Linked DNA regions of Homo sapiens. The protein of the gene in region 1 interacts with the protein of each later gene in a pairwise test. Each region holds a gene or a part of one and is shown in the gene's direction. Other genes may lie near its edges. The genes, in order: EFTUD2, IK, TTC27, HINFP, GSK3B, ARPC3 and CYFIP1.

Region 1 (3,500 bases):
TGTCTCAAAAAAAAAAAAAAAAAAAGGAAAAAGAAAATAAAGGCTCCCAAGCCAAAGTTATTCTTGGTCCTTTGTTAGGGAAATAATTGCACAATTAAACAATTAACCCATGGGTGGTGATTAGGTCTCAGAGTGGGTGGTTTCAAGGAGAGGGTGGGGACTGTCTCTCCCAGATTCTTTGTCAAGCCTTGATGTAGCCCCTCAAACCATGTGTTGCTTGGCCTCCTTGTCCTAGTTGAGTCGTATTTTCTCCAAGGCCCTGTGGAGGACCCTCAATACCCCTCTTAGACTCCTCTACTGATGTATCTAGGAAGGAGGAAGGATTGGTGTCATAGAAAACACTGGGTTTCCTGGGCAGCAGACCATGTTGGGGCTTCAGGGCAGAGCTTCACTCAGATGCTGTGGGTTGAGAATGACATGGGTGCACGCCAGTGGGTCTCAGCACCAGCTCTGTCAGACCCATGGGGGTTGTTCAGTGAATGGTGGTAGATGGCTGAATGGATGCTGAGAGCTACCTTTGAAGACTAGAATTAAGGCCCTAGTTTGATACCCCACTTACTCTTGGCTCAGGAATCTAATTTCTTTACTACAGTAAGTTTTCTTGGGCTTTTTGGTGATGATTTGGACAGCTCTTTTAACCTGCTGTTGTACTTATCACTTGTGCTGATTAAGGCAGTTGGGGTTTTCACAGAGGTAGTGTCAAGGGAGCTTCTGAATTCCCTTAGGTAAATGGTTGCCCTTCCAACAAAATTAGACCTCGCTTCAGTAATTTATTTTCTGTTTCCCAGGTGGCTGACCCAGTTGTCACGTTTTGTGAGACGGTGGTGGAAACATCCTCCCTCAAGTGCTTTGCTGAAACGCCTAATAAGAAGTAAGCTGGGAGCACAGTGTCCCTGGGACTGCAGCCTCCTGGACACTCTCTCTCCTTTATCTTCCACCTCTACCCCCACCATGAGCACTATGCACATAGAGACCTCTACAGCTCAGAATAGGGGGTGCTTACAATACTTGAGTTTCACTCCAGCCCTCTCAGCCCTTCTGCCTTTGAACACAATGACATGGGATTATTCGCCTTGGGTATTCCCAAGAGGAGTTTCATAACTGCCACTTTGTCTCTATAAAATGACTATCTTAAAAGTTTACTCCAAATCTTACTCACTTTTTGTTTTTTTGTTTTTTTTTTTTTTGACACAGGCTGGAGTGCAGCCTCAACTTTCTGGGCTTAAGCAATCCTCCCAAGCAGCTAGGACTATGGGCACACACCAGGCCATCTGTTAATTTTTTTATTTTTTGTTGTCCAGACTGGTCTTGGACTTTTGGGCTCAAGTGTTCCTCCCATCTTGGCCTCCCAAATTGTTGGGATTACAGGTGTGAGCCACCATGCCCAGCTTAAACCTTACTTTTTTTTTCTTTTTTTTAAGACAGTCTCGCTCTGTCGCCCAGGCTGGAGTACAGTGGCACGATCTCGCCTCACTGTAGCCCCTGCCTCCCAGGTTCAAGCAATTCTTGTGCCTCAGCTTCCCCAGTAGCAGGGATTACATGCACGCACCACCACACCTGGCTAATTTTTTGTATTTTTAGTAGAGGTGGGGTTTCGCCATGTTGCCCAGGCTGGTCTCGAACCCCTGACCTCAGGCAGTCCGCCCGCCTCGGCCTCCCAAAATGCTGGGATTACAGGCATGAGCCACCACGCCCAGCTTAAACCTTACTTTCATAAAGACCAGTAGATTGAAATGAAAGAAAGATGAGCCCTTTGCCCTTTTTGCTCCACCTTGCCCCTGATACTGTGGCTTTTTTTTTTTTTTTTTTTTTTTTGAGACAGGGTCTCACTTCGTCACCCAGGCTGGAGTACAGTGGTGCCACCATGGGTCACTGCAGCCTCAACCTTCCGAGCTCAAGCGATCCTCCTACCTTAGTTAGCCTCCCAAGTAGCTGGGACTACAGGTGTGCTAACCACACCTGGGTTTGTTTTTCTTTTTTTTTTTTTCTTTTGAGACATAGAGTCTCACTCTGTAGCCCAGGCTGGAGTGCAGTGGCTCGATCTCAGCTCACTGGAACCTCTGCCTCCCGGGTCCAAGCAATTCCCCTGCCTCAGCCTCCCGAGTAGCTAGGACTACAGGGAGTGAGTGTCACCACACCCAGCTAATTTTTGTATTTTTAGTAGAGATGGGGTTTCACTGTGTTGGCCAGGCTGGTCTCGAACTCCTGATCTCATGATCTGCCTGCCTCAGCCTCCCAAAGTGTTGGGATTACAGGCATGAGCCATCGCACCCGGCTGGCTAATTTTTTATAGAGATGGGGTCTCTTGCTTTGTTGCCCAGGTTCTGTTTGTTTGTTTGTTTGTTTGTCTGGGGTTTTTTTTTGTTCTGTTTTGTTTTTGAGACAGAGTCTTGCACGGTCGCCAGGCTGGAGTGCAGTGGCACAATCTCGGCTCACTGCAACCTCCGCCTTCTGGGTTCAAGTGATTCCCCTGCCTCAACCTGAGTAGTTGTGATTACAGGCATGTGCCAGCGCACGCCACCACGCCCAGCTAATTTTTTGTATTTTAGTAGAGATGGGGTTTCACCATGTTGGCCAGGGTAGGCTCGATCTTCTGACCTTGTGATCCGCCCACCTCGGCCTCCCAAAATGCCGGGATTACAGGGGTGAGCCACCGCGCCTGGCTGTTTGTTTTTAAGAGGCAGTATGTTGCTGTATCACCCAGACTGGAGTGCAGTGGTGTGAGCCATAGCTCACTGCAGCCTCAAATTCCTGGGTTTCAGTGATCCTCCTGCCTTGGCCTCTCAAAGTGCTGGGATTACAGGTCTGAACCACCACGCTTGGCCCCTGTGGCTTTCACTGATGTCACTTCCTCAGCTGTCCGTCTTGTTACCCTTTTCTTAGTAATGCCTCTTCTGCTGTTCTGTTAGCCGTCCTTACCACCCATTTCCATTCTGACCAGGAACAAGATCACCATGATTGCTGAGCCTCTTGAGAAGGGCCTGGCAGAGGACATAGAGAATGAGGTGGTCCAGATTACGTGGAACAGGTGAGAACAGGGCTCTGACGCCAGGGTCGAAAGGAGGCAGGGATGCCACAGTTTAACTGCCGGGTCTCTAAGAGCACACATCTTTCTGGGGAGCATTTATGTCTTTGCCTTTGCTCTTGTTCTGGGCACAGTGGGTAGGATGAAGTGACTGTCTTCCAGGAAGGGAGGGTCTGTGGCTCCAGGACCAGCAATCACAGAGCTGGCTGACAGCTCCATTGTCTCCTCCCTTCCCCAGGAAGAAGCTGGGAGAGTTCTTCCAGACCAAGTACGATTGGGATCTGCTGGCTGCCCGTTCCATCTGGGCTTTTGGCCCTGATGCGACTGGCCCCAACATTCTGGTGGATGATACTCTGCCCTCTGAGGTACAGCAGAACTGATGGGAACTGGGTGGCGGTCTCTTACCTCTGGAGTGGAAGAAACTACAAAGTGTTCTTTTCCCAAAAGTATCTTGTGTCCTCTGGTGAAGGACAGT
Region 2 (3,500 bases), on another chromosome or scaffold:
TCAGCCTCCCAAAGTGCGGCGATTATAGGTGTGAGCCACTGCACCCGGCCAGACTGATTATTTTCAAGGCTATAACTGAATTAAATTTACAGGCCTTCTTATATACATATGTCAGTAATGGACCAGGCTAAATATAAATAAATGGAGTTGCTGGCTCATAGGATATATATACTTAAATTTTAACAAATACTGCAAAATTGCCCTTCAAATTGGTTATACTGGTTTACATTCTCATCAGCATTATATGAGAGAGTCCCCTTCCCAAATTCTCACTCACACTTGATTTATCAAACTTTCTGGTAGTTAACACTCTGATGCATTAAAAGTGGCATGGCATATCTGGTCGGGCGTGGTGGCTTACACCTATAATCCCAGCACTTTGGGAGGCTGAGGTGGGCAGATCACCTGAGGTCAGAAGTTTGGGACCAGCCTGGCCAACACCTCTAATAAAAATACAAAAATTAGCTGGGTGTGTTGGCGGGCACCTGTATTCCCAGCTACTTGTGAGGCTGAGGCAGGAGAATTACTTGAACCCAGGAGGCAGAGGTTGCAGTGGGCTGAGATCATGCCACTGCACTCCAGCCGGGGCAACAGAGGGAGACTCTGTCTTAAAAAAAAAAAAAAAAAGCTGGGTGCGGTGGCTCATCCCTATAATCCCAGCACTTTGGGAGGCCGAGGTGGGTGGATCACAAGGTCAGGAGTTCAAGACCAGCCTGGCCAATATGGGTGACAGTGAGACTCCGTCTCAAAAAAAAAAAAACAGTGTCATATCTTTGTTTTAATTTGTATTTCCCTGATTTCTGTTAATTTAATCATGATTTTTACTTGTTCCTTTTTCATTTCTTATTGAGTCCTAATATTTAAAATCTTTGCCTTTTCTTCTAGATCAAAACTCACCAATGAAGACTTCAGGAAACTTCTCATGACCCCCAGGGCTGCACCTACCTCTGCACCACCTTCTAAGTCACGTCACCATGAGTAAGTCTTTGGGTGATCCAACCTGTCTCCCAACTTGTTTCTTGCTCCTTCCTATTTCTTTCTACTAAGTAGAATGACTTTTAATAGTCCCTCAGGTATTTATGATACTCTCTAAAGTTTGAGAACTGCCCACCTACAAATATTGGTGTGGATTTCTGCTTGATTGAAAGTGTTACTTTGATCAGTATTCTAGGTCTTTCTAAAAATCCTCAAGGAGACTTCTTGGGGTTTCTGGGGCTGTGGCAATATTTTGCTATCAGTGAATTTCTCGTCTCTTCTAGGATGCCAAGGGAGTACAATGAGGATGAAGACCCAGCTGCACGAAGGAGGAAAAAGAAAAGGTGAAGGAAGGGTGAAGGGTTTTAGATTTTAAGGTGGATAGTGTTTAGGGGAAAGAAGTAGGGGCTAATTATGAAGCTAGAAACTAAGATTTTGTCTTGAGGCTCTCTACTTTCTTAATGAAACAGAGTGATACTTAGAGTGGCAGTAGAGGGCTTTGGAATAGGCCTATCTATATTTTAATCTCATCTTCGCTAGTTTCTTGGTGGATAACCTAGACATTTGCTTAGCCTCTCTAATCCACAGATAGAATGGAGATACAGTAGCAATAATAACTTTTATCAGGATGTCATGAGGATCAGCTGTGAAAGTACATGTAGGCATTTAGCACCAATGCCTGGCATATGGTAACCACCCAATAAATCTTGACGGCCATCATCATTATTATATCATCATCGTTATTTATATGATACGAAAGTTTCAGGACCTGGTACTTGGCTTTTCCTTTATTCTGAGAGTGGACCAGCAAATAATACGTTCTTTTCAGCTGAAATTTAGAAGGTGGTAAAAATTCAGAAGATTTTCTGATTTTTGTGTGGAAAAGTCTTATATCTATAGAGAATTGGTAGAGTTGGGTGGTATTAAAAAGTTCTGAAGTGACAGATGGAGTGTCCCAAGTTGGCACTGGAAAAGTATATCTATAAGCTGGAAGAAGTTGTAGTTCTGATTTTGAGTAACTACGAAGAGGTGGCCAGCAGTTCTATCAGGACAGACATGAGCTTTTCCCCATAGAGAGTAGGTTGGAGATGTAGGGAAGCAAGCAGGAACAGTTCTGTTGACCTTGAGGTAGCAGCTGATGAGCCTTATACATTTGCCTTTCTCTGGTCACAGTTATTATGCCAAGCTACGCCAACAAGAAATTGAGAGAGAGAGAGAGCTAGCAGAGAAGTACCGGGATCGTGCCAAGGAACGGAGAGATGGAGTGAACAAAGATTATGAAGAAACCGAGCTTATCAGCACCACAGCTAACTATAGGGCTGTTGGCCCCACTGCTGAGGCGTGAGTACTGAGGGAACAGGGCATGGTTCCCTCAGCATCCGAGAGTCATGCAAATACAATGTGAACTCTTCCTCTTACTTTCCTGCCCTGGAGCCTACAATAAGCGATTTCAGAGGCATTTGCCACCCACAAAGGGCTGTTCTTTTTTTTTTTTTTTTTTGAGATGGAGTCTCGCTCTGTCACCCAGGCTGGACTGCAGTGGCACGATCTTGGCTCATGGCAAGCTCCGCCTCCCAGGTTCATGCCATTCTCCTGCCTCAGCCTCCCGAGTAGCTGGGACTACAGGCGCCCGCCACCACGCCCGGCTAATTTTTTGTATTTTTAGTAGAGACAGGGTTTCACCGTGTTAGCCAGGCTGGTCTCGATCTGACCTCATGATCCACCCGCCTCGGCCTGCTGAAGTGCTGGGATTACAGGCGTGAGCCACCGCACCTGGCCCCCCAACCCCCTTTCCCCCACCCCCTTTTTTTTTTTTTGGAGACAGAGTCTTGCTCTTGTTGCCCAGGCTGGAGTGCAGTAGCGCGATCTCAGCTCACTGCAGCCTCCGCCTCCCATGTTCAGGCGATTCTCTTGCCTCAGCCTCCCGAGTAGCTGGGACTACAGGCGCCCACCACCATGCCCAGCTAATTTTTGTATTTTTAGTAGAGATGGGGTTTCACCATATCCACCAGGCTGGTCTCAAACTCCTGACCTTGTGATCTGTCCGCCTTGACCTCCCAGAGTACTGGGATTACAGGCGTGATCCACCACGCCTGGACAGTACTGTTCTTATGTGGCCTCTTTCATTATACAGGGACAAATCAGCTGCAGAGAAGAGAAGACAGTTGATCCAGGAGTCCAAATTCTTGGGTGGTGACATGGAACACACCCATTTGGTGAAAGGCTTGGATTTTGCTCTGCTTCAAAAGGTGAGTCCTGGTGGTCAGGTGGGGAGTAATACTGTCGTGCTGAATGCTCTTGTATGGGTCTGGCAAGATGAGGAGGGAGATTCCTGAGAGTTCAGACTGAGTAGAAGAAGGGCTAAAGATGGCCCCTCTGAAAAGCTGATTGCTACTCATCCTTCAAGTATCAGGCCAAATTTTATTTCCTTGGAGAAACCTTCCCTGATCACCCAGGTGTGGTTAAGCACTTCCCTTCACCTCCTGCTTCCTGTACCTTTGCATAGCCCTTCTGTTTCATTTACC
Region 3 (3,500 bases), on another chromosome or scaffold:
TCTTTGTAATCTGACCTTGTCCAGAGAGTGGATGTTGGAACTTTTGCTTTTCTTAAAGTGGTTTGAAAACAGCTATTCTGCAGTAAGTTATTTCAGAGACATAATGAAAAAATTTTGGTCTTACATGAAGTCAGATAGTGTAATAAACTGTTGATATAGAACCAAAAGATCCTGGCTTTAAGCTCTGGTTCTGATGCTGAGAAGCCCTGTGATCATGAACAAATGACTGTATTCTTTAGAACTTTTGTTTCTGTCATCTGTGAAAAAGAGATAATAATAGTTCTTCTACCTACAACACTCAATGTGTTACTTTTTTTTTTTTTTTTTAAAGGGTGGTAGTTTGATGCAAAAATTAGTATGTGGACTGTAGTGGCAGAAATCCTGGGTTTGAGTCCTGGTACCAGAGCTTGTTGGCTTTCTAATTTTATAAGTCATTTAAAACCTGAGGCTGGGCCTCAGGACTTTCTTATGTGAAATGGAGAAAATACCTTGTAAACTCTAAAGCACTCTGAAAATATTACTCTTCATGACTGTACAGTAGATCTCATGGGTAAGTCAGTAGATATAATTTTATTGTTTTTTCAGGTGCTTTGGGAAAAAGAACACGGTTCCAGGAAAATTATGTGGCACAACTGATTCTAGATGTAAGAAGGGAAGGGGATGTCCTTTCAAATTGTGAATTCACTCCAGCACCCACTCCTCAGGAACATTTAACCAAGGCAAGTAGGACATTAAGTTATTAAATTCAATTAACACCTGAGTCTAAGAATTTCAATAGCTGAGTACCATAGAAACACTGAATGGGTTGGGGACAGACTTCATTTTATTCTTTCTTTTGCCTTTTAAAGGTTGCTGAGTCAGGGAGAACTGGTGTTTAACTGGTGTTTTTTTTTCCTAACCTGTGATAGAAAAAACTGGTGTTTTTTTTTTCCTAACCTGTATATAGAGATAAATACTGTTTTTCTTCTAGGATTCAATAACTATGAATTAATGATGCAGTTAGTTATGTATTACCCCTCTTGAAGAAATACGAAAGGCAGACTGGGTGTAGACCAGTTTCTCTATCTGCTATCATATTTGTTTCCTTATGTTTGTCTTCTCTTGGAATCTCTTAGGCTTTTTCTAAATATATAAACATTATCAGAATTCCTTTTCACTAGTTTTGTGATCGGCCTTTTGTTTCTCTGTCATTATTGGGGGGGTGGTTGCCTTAGTATGTTTATTTGACATGTCTAGTGAATTCTCTTCTTTAGTTTGAATTATGACTCTTGGTCAGTTTACCTAATTATAGTCCACTCCAGCTGCTTCCATGAAGCCGTTTAGTATTTATGCATGTGTTTTCTGATCCCAGAAACCCCCAACTACTTTTTTTTTTTTTTTTTTTTGAGATGGAGTCTCACTCTATTGCCCAGGCTGGAGTGTAGTGGCGTAATCTCGGCTCAATGCATCCTCCGCCTCCTGGGTTTAAGCGATTCTCCTGCCTCAGCCTCCCGAGTAGCTGGGATTACAGGCATGCACCACCACGCCCGGCTAATTTTGTATTTTTGGTAGAGACAGGGTTTCTCCATGTTGGTCAGGCTGGTCTCGAACTCGCAACCTCAGGTGATCCACCCGTCTCGGCCTCCCAAAGTGCTGGGATTACAGGCGTGAGCCACCACACCTGGCTGTGTTTGTTGTTTTTTAATGTGGAGTTGTTCTATAGAAAAGTATCTCCCAGTGATTGACCTGGCATGGTGGCTCATGCCTGTAATCCCAGCACTTTGGGAGGCTGAAGTGGGTGGATCACTTGAGGTCAGGAGTTCGAGCCCAGTCTGACCAAAATGGTGAAACCCTGTCTCTATTAAAAATACAAAATTAGGCCAGGTGCAGTGGCTCACGCCTGTAATCCCAGCACTTTGGGAGGCCAAGGTGGGTGCACGAGGTCAGGAGATTGAGACCATCCTGGCTAACATGGTGAAACCCCGTCTCTATTAAAAATACAAAAAAAAAAAATTAACCGGGCGTGGTGGCGGGTGCCTGTAGTCCCAGCTACTCAGGAGGCTGAGGCAGGAGAATGGCGTGAATCTGGGAGACGGAGCTTGCAGTGAGCCGAGATCATGCCACTGCACTCCAGCCTGGGTGACAGAGCAAGACTCCGTCTCAAAAAAAAGAAAATAAACAAAAAAACAAAATTAGCCAGTTGTGGTGGTGTGTGCCTGTAATCCCAGCTACTTGGGAGGTTGAGGCAGGAGAATTGCTTGAACCCAGGAGGTGGAGGCTACAATGAGCAATGAGTGCAATTGCATCATTGAACTCCAGCCTGGGCAACAAGAGCAAAACTCCCTTTGAAAAAAAAAAAAAAGAAAAGAAAATTATCTCCTGGTGATAAATAGGATATGATGAGTATTATGAGAAATGTATGAAAATGATGTACCATTTAATACAGAATTTTAATCGTTTTTTTGCTTGTTCTTTCTTTTCTTTTCTCCTTTTCTTCTTTCTTCCCTTCCTCCCTCCCTCCCTCCCTCCCTCCCTTCCTTCCTTCCTTCCTTCCTTCCTTCCTTCCATTTTTAAATGGAGATGAGTTCTCACTATATTGCCCAGGTTTGTTTCAAACTCCTGGGCTCAAGCAATCTTCTTGCCTCAACCTCCCAAAGTGCTGGGATTCACCATGTAATACATGTTACAGGGTTAATGTGGTTAACATTTTTAATATATTACATGTGGCTATCAGAAATTTTTTCAGAATTATTTTATTTTAAAAATTTTGGCTGGGCGTGGTGGCTCACGCCTGTAATCCCAGCACTTTGGGAGGCCGAGGTGGACGGATCATGAGGTCAGGAGATGGAGACCATCCTGGCTAACACAGTGAAACCCCGTCTCTACTAAAAATACAAAGAATTAGCTGGGAGTGGTGGCAGGCGCCTGTAGTCCCAGCTACTCCGGAGTCTGTGGCAGGAGAATGGCGTGAACCCGGGAGGCGGAGCTTGCAGTGAGCTGAGATCGTGCCACTGCACTCCAGGCTGGGCGACAGAGTGAGACTCCATCTCAAAAAAAAAAATAAATCAATAAATAAAAAATAAATTTTACCTGTTTATCTATTTAGAGACCAGGTTATGAGACTGGCTAATTTTTGTATTTTTGGTAGAGATGGGGTTTCACCGTGTTGCCCAGGCTGGTCTCGAACTTCTGGGCTCAAGCCATCCACTTTCCTCAGCCTCCCAAAACTGTTGGGATTATAGGCATGAGCCACTGCACCGGCCAGAATTTAATCTTTTGTATGTGAAATAAAATACATTCAGATAATCTTATGGTCTTTGTTAATTACTACTTGAAGATGGAGAGTACAAGTTGTATGCTGTAGGTATGGATTAGATAGAAACATAGCTTTATTCTAATGGGTGGAAGAGAATTGTTAAGTTGGTTATATATCATATTACCTTGTGTTAAACACATTATTAGATTGTAATATACACCATCTGTTTAATAACCATTTTTCAGGAAAAGGAAAGGAACACTAC
Region 4 (3,500 bases), on another chromosome or scaffold:
GTGCTGAGTTAAAAGGGCAGATTTCTAGGCTTAACTCCTGCCTTCCTGAATCCGAACTTCTCACGCAGGCGCTGGATAACTACATTCGTGTGCAGATCTAAAATTGAGAGCTACCTGGGCATGGTGGCTCACATCTATAATCCCAGCACTCTGGGAGGCTGAGGCGGGTGGATCACCTGAGGACAGGAGTTCGAGACCAGCCTGGCCATCATGGTGAAACTCTGTCTCTAGCAAAAATACAAAAATTAGCCAGGCGTGGTGACACACCTGTAATCCCAGCTACTCAGGAGGCTGAGGCAGGAGAATCTCTTGAACCCGGCAGGTGGAGGTTGCAGTGAGCTGAGATTGCGCCACTGCATTCCAGCCTGGGTAACAGCGAGACTCTGTCTCAAAAAATAAAAATAAAATGAAATAAAATTGAGAACCTTTAGTTTTTTGTTTGTGTGTGTGTGTGTGTTTTTTTTTTTTTTTTTTTTTGAGACAGAGTCTTACTCTGTTGCCCAGGCTGGAGTACAGTGGCACGATCTCGGCTCATTGCAGCTTCTGCCTTCCAAGTTCAAGCGATTCTCCTGCCTCAGCCTCCCGAGTAGCTGGGATTACAGGCTTGTGCCACCACGCCTGGCTAATTTTTGTATTTTTAGTAGAGACAGGGTTTCACCATGTTGGCCAGGCTGGTCTTGAACTCCTGACTTCAGATGATCCACCTGTCTTGGCCTCCCAGAGTGCTGGGATTAGAGGTGTGCACCAGTGCGCACAGCCGAGAACCTTCAGTTTCATGTTTATCTTTCTTCAATAAATATTTATTACAGACTGGGTGCAGTGGCTCATGCCTGTAACTCCAACACTTTGGGAGTCTGAGGCAGATGGGTTGCTTGAGTCCAAGAATTCGAGACCAGCCTGGGCAACATGGCAAAACCCTGTCACTACAAAAACAAAACAAAACAAAAATTAGACAGATGTGGTGGCGCATGCCTGTGGTCCCAGTTACTTGGGAGGCTGAGGTAGGAGGATCTCCTGAGCCTGGGGAGGTCGAAGCTTCAGTGAGCTGTGATTGTGCCACTGTACTCCAGCCTGGGTGACAGGGTGAGACTCTGTCTCAAGAAAAAAAATATTTATTACATGCCTAAGCATGCCTAGCAGTGTATAGACACCCAAGGTGCAGTATAAACTACACAGATACGGCTTTTTATGTTCAAATGGAATCTACATTTTAACAGAAGGTATTAGCAGAGTGGTGGAGTAAACCGTTGGATAGGTTAGGTAAAGGCAGATTGTATGGCACTGTGAAAGTCTGGCAGGGGACTTATGATTCAATAAGAAATAAGGAGCTTCTAGGCTCATCTGTAGGCTCTATGGAGTAGAACCGTATATGGACTAGAGTCAGCCCAACATGACCCTACCATTACCACTAGTGTGTGGCCGTGAGCAAGTCAGTTGACCTCTGGAACTTCAGGTGTTTATCTATAAATGAGGTTAAAAATAGCACCTACCAGCTGGGCGTGGTGGCTCACACCTATGATCCCAGCACTTTGGGAAGCCAAGGTGGGTGGATCACCTGAGGGCAGGAGTTTGAGACCAGCCTGACCAACATGGGGAAGAAACCCTGTCTCTACGAAAAATATAAAAATTAGCCAGGCGTGGTGGCGGGCGCCTGTAATCCCAGCTACTCAAGAGGCTGAGGCAGGAGAATCGCTTGAACCCGGGAGGCGGAGGTTGCAGTGAGCCAAAATCGAGCCATTGCACTCCAGCCTGGGAGATGAGCGAAACTCAATCTCAAAAAAAAAAAAAAAAAAAGCACCTACGGCAAAGGGTGGTGTTGGTAATTAAATGACATAATGCAAATAAAATGCTTACTGTGGTGCTTGACATATAGTAAGTGTGAAATTAAAAACAAAAAGATTTATTATCTTCATTTTGCAGATGAGAGTATTCAGAAGTTAAGTTCTTGACAAAGGTCATACAGCTAGTAGATGGTAGACAGTGGAGCCAGGATTTGAACCCTGATCCTTCTCAAAAGCCATCTGTTTGAACCTGAGCATTGTTCTGCCTCACAGAGGAATAATTCCTTCTTGGTGGGTTGCTCTGAAGCTTCATGAGAAAATGTCTGTTAAAGCGTTTAGCTCAGTGCCTGGCACACACTCAATAGTGTTAGTTTTTGTTTTCCCTTTCCACAAACACCAGACATCTTCCAGGGATTTAAGGAATTACTCCATCCTTACTGTAAAAGGGCAGGGTTTCTCATGGGTCACTGGAACAACACGTGCTGATTCTAGGCAGGCTGCCTGCCCAGCTTTTTGCCCTCAGCAGCACCTGGGTGGAATTCTTGCAGCTGTGGATTTCTTCCTCTTCCTCTAGGGTGAAGGCCATGCCGCCTCCTGGGAAAGTTCCCCGAAAGGAGAATCTGTGGCTACAGTGTGAGTGGGGGTCCTGCTCCTTTGTGTGCTCAACCATGGAAAAGTTCTTTGAGCATGTCACTCAGCACCTGCAGCAGCACCTGCATGGCTCTGGGGAGGAGGAGGAAGAGGAAGAGGAGGATGACCCACTTGGTAAGAGAGCAGGACACAGGAAGGGGAGGAGCTCAAGGAAAGGTGGAAAATCTGACTTTCTTTTCCTTAGAGGGAGAAGGCGGCCTAAGAGAATGGTGGTTTATTTTCCTAATTGTGTTTTTGTTGTATATAAAAACATTGTAAACTCATTTATAGAAAACTCAGTCAACAAGGATATAAGGAATAAATCTGCCATCCTGCCATCAAGAAGTAATTGCTGACAGTACTTTAGTGAACATTGTTTTTGACATCTCTCTGCCTGTGTTTACATATATTTAAATACAGATGAATGTGCTTTTTTTTAATCATTCTGTACAAGTTGTTGGCAACCTGTGTTTTGTTGTTGTGTTTTTTTTTTTTTTTTTTTTACTCTTCTAGTATTCCCAATTTTTTTTTTCTTTTACTGCAACCAGTCAGAAATACATCTTACTTTTTAGAGACAGGGCTTCATCTTGTCACCCAGGTTGGAGTCCAGTGTCATGATCATAGCTCACTGCAGCCTTCAACACTCAAGGGATCCTCCTGCCTCAACCTCCCGAGTAGTTAGGACTGCAGGCATGTACCACCACCACACGCCAATTTTTAAAAAAATTTTTTTTAGAGACAGGATCTTGCTTATGTTGCCCACTGATCTCAAACTCCTGGCCTCGAGCAATCCTCCTACCTTAGCCTCCTAAGTAGCTGGGACTATTGGCTTGTGCCACCAAGTCCAACCCCACTCCCACCTTCCAATTTTTTTTTTTTTTTTTGAGACGGAGTCTTGCTCTGTTGCCAGGTTGGAGTGCAATGGTTCGATCTCGGCTCACTGCAGCCTTTGCCTCCCAGGTTCAAGCAATTCTCCTGCCTCAGCCTCTTGTAGCTGGGACTACAGGCGCGCGCCACCACGCCCAACTAATTTTTGTACTTTTAGTAGAGATGGGGTTTCACCATGTTGGCCAGGATGGTCTCAATCTC
Region 5 (3,500 bases), on another chromosome or scaffold:
GCAATGCCCCACCCTGCTTCGGCTCGCCCTCCATGGGCTGCACCTGCTGTCCAACCAGTCCCAGTGAGATGAACCAGGTACCTAAGTTGGAAATGCAGAAATCACCTGTGTTCTGCAAAGATCTTCCTGGGAGTTGTAGACCAGAACTGTTCCTATTCAGCCATCTTGGAAGCGACCATGAATGCCATCTTACAAATGAAAGTGTTAATTGGTCACAGACATTCACTGGCTTTTGTGTATATTAATACTTCTGTGAATTTAAATGGATATAAATATTGGTTATAATATTCCACTAGTGCATTTGGATATTCATTTATCTAGCAATTTATATTTCACAGAGAAAAATACTCATAAATATTATATTACTTTTCTTTTATTAGGTTAATTGGAATTCAGTTAGTATTTTAGAAAGGAAATTGTAATGGAAGAATAACAGGAAAAAATAAAAGTCCAATAAGTGAGCCTAAGGACTTATATTGTACTGAGAATTGGTTTTAGATTTGTCAGGGAAGAGAGAAGAAACAGTAGACATTTTTGTGTACGTTGAAGTCACTAAAAGAACAATGTAAAGCTCTTTTAGATCAGATACTAGGTAGCATAATACACAGAATCGATTAAGAATTCAGAAAACAAGATGGTGACTGTGGACTATCCCTAGTGAAGTAGGAGGTGGCTCTTGTGCCTGAATTGAAGAGAGCCGTTGGATTGCTACTGGGGTGAGAGAAGGCAAAAAAGGAAAGAAGAGGTCTGTGAGTGAATAGAGACCCTGGAGCCAGTGATATGCTTATATAATTGGGCCTCAGTTCAGAATGGGTTGGATTATTTAAATTTTTATATCTGTTAACCCCAAATTAACATTCTTTTCTCCACCTGAGCTTTCTCTGAGAGGTCTTCTACTTTGCTAAAAAGAAGATTCAGGGAAGCAAACACTCAAAGCCTTACTTTCCTAAATGCAGAAGGATCTGAAGAGAGAAGTTTTAAACATTTTTATTTGCACATATTTTATTTTCAAGTAAAATAAGGTCTTGAAGAAAGCCCTAAGGCCTTTTAGAATTGGATGGATAAGGTCAGACTCTTATGGGTTCACCTTTTGCTATTTGACCATGGGCAAATTTAACATTCTTCCTATTACCTATAATATGGGAACAGTACTGTCTACCTCATGGGGTTGAAACTAAGCATTGTGTCTGGTCTATAGAATGACTGAATACATGGGAGTTTAAAAAATGACTTATAATTGAAACAAGTAATTGAAGTAATTACATGTAATAAACTAAAAATAATTTGTAGTAAAGAATATAGTTTACTTTGACCAGGCGTGGTGGCTGATGCCTGTAATCCCAGCACTTTGGAGGCCAAGGAGGGCGGATCACCTGAGGTCAGGAGTTCAAGACCAGCCTGGCCAACATGGTGAAACCGCGTCTCTGCTAGAAATACAAAAATTAGCCAGACGTGGTGGCAGGTGCCTGTAATCCTAGCTACTCGGGAGGCTGAGGCAGGAGAATTGATTGAACCCGGCAGACGGAGGTTGCAGTGAGCCGAGATTGTGTGACTGCACAACAGCCTGGGTGACAAGAGTGAGACTCCATCTCAAAAAAAAAAATAAAATAAAAAATAAAGAATATAGTTTACCTTGTATATTTTGGCAGTTTTCTCTATTTAATTCCTTACAGTTCTCGTGAAAAAAAAATTTCCTTTCTTCCTTTAGGAGACAAGGACGGCAGCAAGGTGACAACAGTGGTGGCAACTCCTGGGCAGGGTCCAGACAGGCCACAAGAAGTCAGCTATACAGACACTAAAGTGATTGGAAATGGATCATTTGGTGTGGTATATCAAGCCAAACTTTGTGATTCAGGAGAACTGGTCGCCATCAAGAAAGTATTGCAGGACAAGAGATTTAAGGTAAAATGTCCAGTATTTCATATATTTTGTTGCTGTCGTAATACATATACCATAAATGATTATTTTTTTAGTTGCTTCTTTTTGCTTCAAATTTCTTCTATTGTGCGCATTTTTGTTCAGCTCAACCATTGTAGTGATTTTATTTCTAGTCATGTATTTTGTAGAGATAACATTCACTGAAGATTGCAGTATTACTTTTGTAGTCATTACAAATGACATATGTAATATATGTATTTTTTAATCCTGTGAAAGGTAAGTTAAAATTTCTTAATTTATACTATAAAAAGTGACCTGTCCTCACCGTTGTACTGTGTTGATGTAGACCAGAGGAACACTGCCTGTAGCATATAAGCATTTTATGTATTTGACTATGCTTCCTTTTTTCAAAAAATTTTTTTAATCCATGTTGCAACTTGTGTTAGTCTGTTTTTGCATCTCTATAAAGGAATACCTGATATTGAGTAATTTATAAAGAAAAGAGGTTTAATTGGCTCACAATTCTGCAAACTGTACAGGAAGTGTGGTGCAGACATCTGCTTCTAGTAATTGTCTCAGGAAACTTCTAATCATGGGCAGAAGGTGAAGGGCGAGTAGGTGCATCACATGGCAAGAGCTGAGCGAGAGCATGAAGGGGGAGATCCAGACTTTATTATTATTATTATTGTTATTACTATTTTGTAGAAACGGGGTTTTGCCATGTTGTCCAAGCTAGTCTCAATCTCCTGAGCTCAGGCAAGTCGCCTGTCTCAGCCTCCCAAAGTGCTGGGATTACAGGCGTGAGCCACCATGCCCGTCCCCAGACTCTCTTAAATAACCAGATCTCCTGTGAACTAACTGAGTGGGAACTCACTCATCAACAAGGGGATGGTGCTAACCCCATTCATGAGTGGTTGACCCCCTTGATCCAATACCTCCCACCAGGCTCTACCCCGTCTCTACTAAAAATACAAAAAATTAGCCGGGTATGGTGGCGGGCGCTTGTAGTCCCAGCTACTTGGGAGGCTGAAGTAGGAGAATGGCGTGAACCCGGGAGGCAGAGCTTGTAGTGAGCCGAGATCGCGCCACTGCACTCCAGCTTGGGGGACAGAGTGAGACTCTGTCTCAAAAAAAAAAAAAAAAAAAAAAAAGGAGATTACATTTCAACATGAGGTTTGGAAAGGGATAAACATCCAAACCATATTACAACACTATCCATTTTTCTCGTAACTTTTTTTTTTTTTTTTTGCTATCTTCCCTTTTTTTTCTTGTCCTTCTGCCTTTAGACACTAGCAATCCCAAAATTCAGTTCTCGTCATGTATTTTCATTTTCTGTACCTCATTAGGGGAGCCTATGCATGGAAGCTCAGATGTCATCTCTATGTTGTGGTATAGCAGAGAGAGTCAGAAGACACCGGGTGTAATTAAGCCTCTGTCACTATGCAGCGTTGCTCCCTTTACTACTCTTCCAACCTCTGCAACATTTTAGTGGGAGCCTCCAATGTACCAAGATCTATGGTAAACATGAAGGGATATAACAAGAAGAAGTGATCACTGTTCTGGTATAACACTAGTTATACCACATTCTAGTGTCCATCTGCTGTAAATATCTGGAACATTCT
Region 6 (3,500 bases), on another chromosome or scaffold:
ATAAAAAGCCAGACATCTTGTAAAAAGCAGAACTAAGAATCAGCATACAAAATGCTCTCATAAATGTGATTTTTTTTATCCCTTCCTTTAACACACACCTACCCACTGAAGGGAATATATATCTTCTCATTTTACAAATTTGGAAACAAGCTAAGAGAAGAAGAATGATGTCTTGGTCAAAAGCATAACGCCATGAAGTGGCAGAGCTGAAAAGATAGTGCTTGGGTCTTGGTTTAGCTGGGGGCTGGGTACCCTGATTTATATGATGTTTGTCTTTCTGTAGTGGAAATACTTTGGCCAGATACCAATGTGATGTCACCGAACATAGAATTGGAAGAGATGCACAGCAGCACCCCATTATTTAGTATTTCGTAATAATAACCTTAAGAACATAGACAATAGTAAAATGTAATTTTTAAAAATTAGGTTATTGCCGGGTGCAGTGGCTCACGCCTGTAATCCCAGCACTTTGGGAGGCCGGGGCGGGTGGATCATGGGGTCAGGAGTTCGAGACCAGCCTGACCAACATGGTGAAACCCTGTCTCTACTAAAAATACAAAAATTAGCTGGGCGTGGTGGCACGCACCTGTAATCCCAGCTACTTGGGAGGCTGGGGCAGGAGAATCGCTTGAACCCAGGAGGCGGAGGTTGCAGTGAGCAGAGATCGCGCCACCGCACTCCATCCTGGGCGACAGGGCAAGACTCCGTCTCAAAAAAAAAAAAAAATTAGGAAGTAGGCCAAGTGCAGTGCAGTGGCTCACATCTGTAATCCCAGCACTTTGGGAGGGCAAGGCGGGCAGATCACCTGAGGTCGGGAGTTCGAGACCAGCCTGGCGAAAATGGAGAAACATCGTCTCTACCAAAAATACAAAATTAGCTGGGCGTGGTGGCTTATCCCTATAATCCCAGCTACTCAGGAGGCTGAGGCAGGAGAATCACTTGAACCCGGGAGGCGGAGGTTGCAGTGGGCCAAGGTCATGTCATTGCACTCCAGCCTGGGCAACAAGAGCCAAACTCTGTCTCAAAAAAAAAAAAAAAAATTAGGAAGTAGCCAGGTGTGGTGGCTCACACCTGTAGTCCCAGCCCTTTGGGAGGCTGAGGCAGGAGGAACACTTGAGCTTAGGAGTTTGAGATCATCTTAGGCAACATGGTGAGACTCCTTCTCAAAAAAAAAAAAAGAAGTGATGAATACTTAAGCATCATTGTTTTTAACATTATTTACTTTTTTTTTTTTTTTGAGACAGTCTTGCTCTGTTGCCCAGGCTGGAGTGCAGTGGCACGATCTCGGCTCACTGCAGCCTTCGCCTCCTGGGTTCAAGTGATTCTCCAGCTTAGCCTCCCACATGGCTGGGACTACAGGCGCACGCCGCCACGCCTGGCTAATTTTTTATATTTTAGTAGAGATGGGGTTTCACTGTGTTGCCCAGGCTGGTTGCAAACTCCTGAGCTCAGGCAATCTGCCTGCCTCAGCCTCCCAAAGTGCTGGGATTACAGGCATGAGCCACCACGTCCAGCCAACATCATTTACTTAATTGTAAGTTTATATAATTTGATTTTTGAGAAGAGCTGTGTTTAACAACCAGCTTGAAAAATGCCTCAAAATTTAACAATTGGTTTTCTTGAGCCAGAAAGAACCAGCCCTCGCACCTCAATGCTGCTATCCCTTCTCCCTCCCCTAATTAATCTTGGGTGGTTTACTCTTTTTTTCCTTTAAGGGAAGGTTGTTTGCCACAGTGACATTTGCTCTTTTTCTGCTTCTGTGTTCTTCCTGGGCTTGCCATTACAGGCTTACCACTCTTCTCTCATGGATCCTGATACCAAACTCATCGGAAACATGGCACTGTTGCCTATCAGAAGTCAATTCAAAGGACCTGCCCCCAGAGAGAGTAAGTCTAAACCCATTATTTTCAAATTTTGGTACGAAATGCCTAACAATCTTCTGAAATGATCAAATCAGAAAAATTCTTAGCTCAGTCTTCTCTCTCAAATTGCCCTTGTACTTTGCTTGGTAGATACTGTGGTCTAGACCTTTCAAGATAGTGGTTATATGTTGCATTTAATAGGAAATTGTATTATTTCTTCTGACTTCTCCAGGAAACTCTTTTGAGAAAATGGAGGAAATGTGCTTAATTCTGGACACTGTTTATCAGTTCTTTCAAACAAATCTAATGCTGTTACGTCTAGAATGCCACATGCCCATCCTTTCTGTCATCAACCTGGAAAAGAACAACAACAAATATTTTAACCTCTTCCTCGTCTAAATCTACTTCCTTTATTCATTCTTCAAGATCTTCATTTTTAGCAATACCTCAATCTTAAATCTGAAGTGTACTATGTAACATTACTTACGTCTATTCCCGCTTTTCTGAATTTTATTTCAGAAAGCCGCAATATTTTTCAGACACTGTCTGAGACTCTTCTGATGCTTTCTGAGATGTTCTCCCAACAGTATAATTTGTATTATGTTAGACATGGTTTCCCTGTACCCTGCAAGGGTCTGAACTGAATTCCATTCATGGTTTCCAAGACCATTATTATAATTACCAATTTGGTACTTATCCAGTCCCCATTTCTCTGCCAGACTGTTTGACTTGACCTTTTTTAAACTTAATTTTGTTTTCAACACCATTTGAAAGCTCAGTAAACTTAATGCATATGGTGAGTCACCACAGTCTCTACTTGATTCTGAGGAAAAGGAACAAGGAAGAAGACAGCCTGGGAAAGAAGAAAAATAACATAAAAGAAAATCACAAGGCTGGGTGCGGTGGCTCACACTTGTAATCCCAGCACTTTGGAAGGCCAAGGCAAGTGGATCACTTAAGGTCAGGAGTTCGAGACCAGCCTGGCAAACATGGCGAAACCCCAACTCTACTAAAAATACAAAAATTAGCTAGGCATGGTGGTGGGCACCTGTGATCCCAGCTACTCAGGAGGCTGAGACAGGAGAATCGCTTGAACACAGAGGGTGGAGGTTGCAGTGAGCCAAGATTGCACCACTGCACTCCAGCCTGGGTGACAGAGTGAGACTTCATCTCAAAAAAAAAAAAAAATTTTTTTTCACTGCAAAGGCCAGGCGTGATGGCTCACACCTATAATCCCAGCACTTTGAGAGGTCGAGGTGGGTGGATCACCTGAGTTCAGGAGTTCAAGACCAGCGTAACCAACATGGAGAAACCCCATCTCAACTAAAAATACAAACAATCAGCCGGGCATGGTGGCGCATGCCTGTAATCCCAACTACTTGGGAGACTGAGGCAGGAGAATTGCTTGAACCTGGGAGGTGGAGGTTGCAGTGTGCCGAGATCATGTCATTGCACTCCAGCCTAGGCAACGAGCAAAACTCTGTTTCAAAAGAAAAAAAAAAAAAACCTGAATTGGAATGGAGGCCTGTGCTGTGAGCTAAATAACAGCATTAATCACACTAATTCATTTATATTCAACAAATATCTGTAGAATGCCTTTTATGTGCCAAGTATTCTTCTAATTTCAGAATCCTTTGG
Region 7 (3,500 bases), on another chromosome or scaffold:
GCCCACGCCTGTAATCCCAGCATTTTGGGAGGCCAAAGTGGGCGGATCACCTAGGGTCAGGAGTTCGAGACCAGCCTGGCCAACATGGTGAAACCCTGTCTCTACAAAAAAAAAAAAATACAAAAATTAACCAGGCATGGTGGTGCGCACACCTGTAATCCCAGCTACTCAGGAGGCTGAGGCAAGAGAATTGCTTGAACCCGGGAGGCAGAGGTTGCAGTGAGCTGAGATCGTGCCACTGCACTCCAGCCTGGGGGACAGAGCAAGACTCGTCTCAAAAAAAAAAAAAAATACTGTGATGAACGTCTCACTAAATAAAGGCTAGATTTAAGAGCATCTATTTGATTTTTTCCAAAGGAAACGATGTTAAAGAGTGGAAAGCAAAAGCAGTTTTACAGCAGTGATGACAGTCCTCTTCCCATGGACTCTCTACCTAGATTTTAAGTGCTGTGGGCGTGCTCCTAACTTTTCCTCCTGCACACCCGGGGCTGGCAGCCCTGCCTCTAGTCCTCTCTGGGACCGGGAGGCCCTGTGAGCCAGTGAGGAGGCCATGGGGATCCTGTGTGTGCTCACACCGGGCAGGGCGTCTGCCCTGAGCCCTTCCTCTGTGTTCCTAACTGCAGGTCTCATGGCCAGCAGGTTGTTGAGGGCTGGGTGGAGCCAAGGTGTAACGCCTGTGGCACCCCTCAGAGATGCCTGCGTGTCACTGACACCCCTCTCGCCTGCAGAAGCCATGGGGTGTTTTGGGTGGTCATTGTGGCCCCCAGCGCCGCACCTCAGTGTCACTAGCTTCTGGCAGCCGTCTCTTGGCACACAGGCCACAGTGCTTAGGATAGTTTGTGGCGCTTTGTCTGGATTTTAGCAACTGGCATCTGCTTTTCATGCTAGTTCCCCCGCCTGCCTTTGATTTGCCCTGTGTTCCATTGCAGAACGAGATGCTGGAGGAGGGCCAAGAATATGCTGTCATGCTGTACACCTGGAGGAGCTGCTCCCGGGCCATCCCACAGGTGCCACGCTCGCCTGGCTCTTCCCCTCCAGCCACACCCTGCCAGGCCCCTGCCACACCACACCCCTGCCCCTGCCATGCCTGGCCCACTCTCCTCCCAGTTCTCACCCCACAGCAGGGCGGGATCACTAGCTCTAGAAGCCCAGCGGCTGCTTCTGGCTGGATCAAAGCCTCTTATGTCATCCTTGTTCCTTTATTCCCAGGTGAAATGTAACGAGCAGCCTAACAGAGTGGAAATCTACGAGAAAACCGTGGAGGTTCTGGAGCCTGAGGTCACAAAACTGATGAATTTCATGTACTTCCAGGTAAAATGGCAAATAATCTGGGGGGGGTGTAACACCGAGGGGTGGGTTGCTGACCCCTTCCTACCCATCACTGTCACTGTGAACACCCTGAACAGAGTGCCTGCAAATTAAAGCAACCAGTTTCTGAGACAAAAGGGACCAAGCCTTTGACAGTCTAAAGTTCCTCATGCCCTTTCGGAATCAACGCTCCTTTTGTGGTTCACTTCTCTTCTCTGAGAGTGATTTTATGTTTCCTTCATGGAGCCTGCTTTCTGTCAGTTTCAAGTACAATGCTTTGACTTTTTGCCAGTTTGTACTTTTTTTTTTTTTTTTTTTTTTTGAGACAGAGTCTTGCTTTGTCGCCCTGGCTAGAGTGCAATGGCATGATCTCGGCTCACTGCAACCTCTGCCTCCCAGGTTCAAGCGATTCTCCTGCCTCAGCTTCCTGAGTAGCTGGGATTACAGGTGCCCGCCACCACGCCCAGCTAATTTTTGTATTTTTAGTGGAGACAGGGTTTCACCATGTTGGCCAAGCTGGTTTTGAACTCCTGACCTCAGATGATCTGCCCATCTTGGCCTCCCAAAATGCTGAGATTACAGGTGTGAGCCACCACGCCTGGCCAATTTGTACTTTTGTTTTCGTCTGCTCTTTCAGGTATTTTCTTGCTGTTAGCCTCACCCTGACTGTCCATTCCTGGTGGTCCTCGCCCTGGCCTTGGTTAGGCAAGAAGTAGCCACATGGAAGGGGCTTGCTGCTTTTTAAAGAAGTATTTTGGAAACATCCAGATTTTTTATGATGATGTCCTTCAGCAAAGGGAGGAGATGGAACTAACTGGGAGATGAATTTTTGTTTTACCTTGAAAGTTACCAAGAGGAAAAAAATCTCTCCCAGTTTTCACTTCTGAAAGTTAGAACATCTGAATTTTACAGGCGTTTTATTGGAGCATTTTGCTCAGTAATTTTGCTGGAATAATCAGCAAGATTTTGTTACTTTAGTGATGTAGTTGGTAAAGTGCAAGTCAAGTAATGATGGTGCAGAGCAGGCAGTGGGAGCTGCTTTCAGGAAGGGGTCTGGTTGCCCACATTGTAAACACTTCGGCCTGGAGCCTCACTGGGCAGATCGTTTCTCATCGAGGAGCAGTGACTGCAGGTGCTTGAAGGAGGGACATGGGCTTGGCTCCTCACTGACCTGCAGCTTTCTGCCCTCCTGCTTCCTCTGCACAGAGAAATGCCATTGAGCGTTTCTGCGGGGAAGTGAGGCGCCTGTGCCATGCCGAGAGGAGGAAGGACTTCGTGTCAGAAGCCTACCTGATCACACTGGGCAAATTCATCAACATGTTCGCTGTGCTGGACGAGCTGAAGAACATGAAGTGCAGTGTGAAGAACGACCACTCAGCGTACAAGAGGTGAGCACCCACCTCGCGCACTGCGGGCCCTCCCGAGAGCACCCAGCTCAGTGGCCTGCCTTGTGCACAGCAGGTGTGCGTCTTTGTTTGCTGAAGTCGTCACTTCTGGTAGGCAGCAGCTACGTCTCAGTGTCAGGGCTGTGTGAGCACCTGCTTCGAGGGATAAGGTGAGGGGAGCCAGCAGATAAGTGCATATCGTGGCTTTGCACAGCTAGAGCAGGCTCTTCGTGCCCTGGCTGTCCTCAGATGTCACAGAGGACCTTCGAGCCCCTGGGAAGACAGACATGCACAAGATGTAGGCCTAGCTCACAGAGCACAGGCATCTGGCTCAGGGAGCATCTTGGCAAGGGGGCAGGTGGCCTCTGCAGCCTACCTTGGGCGTTGGGGCTGCAGTCCTCGGTGCCGGTCACTCGCCAGCGGGGGTCCCCAGCACATGAGCACCATCCCAGCAATGTGCAGACGTGGCCCGTGCACAGTCACAGGGTGTCTCGTGGTCACACTGCGCTTCCAGATCCTCTCCCTGGTGGTTTTCTTTCTGGATGTAGAGAGCTTCTGGAGAAGCTAGCCTCTGGAGAGGCTGGCAAGACGAGCGGAAGAGGCAGGCATGGCCCAGTGTGTGCTTCTGGAGCAGTGTGGGGCAGTGGGTGGCCGATGGGCATTTGGTGACACTCGGCGCGCTGCCGACCGGCGTTCGGTGACACTTGGCACGCTGCCGACCGGCGTTTGGTGACACTTGGCACGCTGTCTCCTGATGCTCTTGCTCTGCTTCATCTGTGCTCAGTGCTTTTGAAGACATGTTTTGCT

What was found.
Region 2: the proteins of EFTUD2 (region 1) and IK interact in binary tests that used the Homo sapiens proteins (3 or more experiments, as listed by UniProt).
Region 3: the proteins of EFTUD2 (region 1) and TTC27 interact in a protein complementation assay, tested with the Homo sapiens proteins (one study listed by BioGRID).
Region 4: the proteins of EFTUD2 (region 1) and HINFP interact in a two-hybrid assay, tested with the Homo sapiens proteins (one large-scale study listed by BioGRID).
Region 5: the proteins of EFTUD2 (region 1) and GSK3B interact in a two-hybrid assay, tested with the Homo sapiens proteins (one large-scale study listed by BioGRID and IntAct).
Region 6: the proteins of EFTUD2 (region 1) and ARPC3 interact in a two-hybrid assay, tested with the Homo sapiens proteins (one large-scale study listed by BioGRID).
Region 7: the proteins of EFTUD2 (region 1) and CYFIP1 interact in a two-hybrid assay, tested with the Homo sapiens proteins (one large-scale study listed by BioGRID and IntAct).

What each region holds. Positions count from the first base shown.
Region 1 is NC_000017.11:44,854,446-44,857,945, reverse strand, and holds part of EFTUD2 (116 kDa U5 small nuclear ribonucleoprotein component), read left to right. Parts: intron 1-788; coding exon 789-871; intron 872-2,941; coding exon 2,942-3,028; intron 3,029-3,263; coding exon 3,264-3,390; intron 3,391-3,500. UniProt on the Homo sapiens protein: Required for pre-mRNA splicing as component of the spliceosome, including pre-catalytic, catalytic and post-catalytic spliceosomal complexes. Component of the U5 snRNP and the U4/U6-U5 tri-snRNP complex, a building block of the spliceosome.
Region 2 is NC_000005.10:140,650,829-140,654,328, forward strand, and holds part of IK (protein Red), read left to right. Parts: intron 1-885; coding exon 886-978; intron 979-1,259; coding exon 1,260-1,319; intron 1,320-2,148; coding exon 2,149-2,316; intron 2,317-3,109; coding exon 3,110-3,224; intron 3,225-3,500. UniProt on the Homo sapiens protein: Involved in pre-mRNA splicing as a component of the spliceosome. Auxiliary spliceosomal protein that regulates selection of alternative splice sites in a small set of target pre-mRNA species. Required for normal mitotic cell cycle progression.
Region 3 is NC_000002.12:32,666,050-32,669,549, forward strand, and holds part of TTC27 (tetratricopeptide repeat protein 27), read left to right. Parts: intron 1-585; coding exon 586-719; intron 720-3,500.
Region 4 is NC_000011.10:119,124,580-119,128,079, forward strand, and holds part of HINFP (histone H4 transcription factor), read left to right. Parts: intron 1-700; exon of another isoform or gene 701-1,188; coding exon of another isoform or gene 1,189-1,220; intron 1,221-2,355; coding exon of another isoform or gene 2,356-2,365; coding exon 2,366-2,546; intron 2,547-3,500. UniProt on the Homo sapiens protein: Transcriptional repressor that binds to the consensus sequence 5'-CGGACGTT-3' and to the RB1 promoter. Transcriptional activator that promotes histone H4 gene transcription at the G1/S phase transition in conjunction with NPAT.
Region 5 is NC_000003.12:120,000,448-120,003,947, reverse strand, and holds part of GSK3B (glycogen synthase kinase-3 beta), read left to right. Parts: intron 1-1,708; coding exon 1,709-1,902; intron 1,903-3,500. UniProt on the Homo sapiens protein: Constitutively active protein kinase that acts as a negative regulator in the hormonal control of glucose homeostasis, Wnt signaling and regulation of transcription factors and microtubules, by phosphorylating and inactivating glycogen synthase (GYS1 or GYS2), EIF2B, CTNNB1/beta-catenin, APC, AXIN1, DPYSL2/CRMP2, JUN, NFATC1/NFATC, MAPT/TAU and MACF1.
Region 6 is NC_000012.12:110,443,838-110,447,337, reverse strand, and holds part of ARPC3 (actin-related protein 2/3 complex subunit 3), read left to right. Parts: intron 1-1,786; coding exon 1,787-1,886; intron 1,887-3,500. UniProt on the Homo sapiens protein: Component of the Arp2/3 complex, a multiprotein complex that mediates actin polymerization upon stimulation by nucleation-promoting factor (NPF).
Region 7 is NC_000015.10:22,942,369-22,945,868, reverse strand, and holds part of CYFIP1 (cytoplasmic FMR1-interacting protein 1), read left to right. Parts: intron 1-929; coding exon 930-1,007; intron 1,008-1,209; coding exon 1,210-1,311; intron 1,312-2,514; coding exon 2,515-2,696; intron 2,697-3,500. UniProt on the Homo sapiens protein: Component of the CYFIP1-EIF4E-FMR1 complex which binds to the mRNA cap and mediates translational repression. In the CYFIP1-EIF4E-FMR1 complex this subunit is an adapter between EIF4E and FMR1.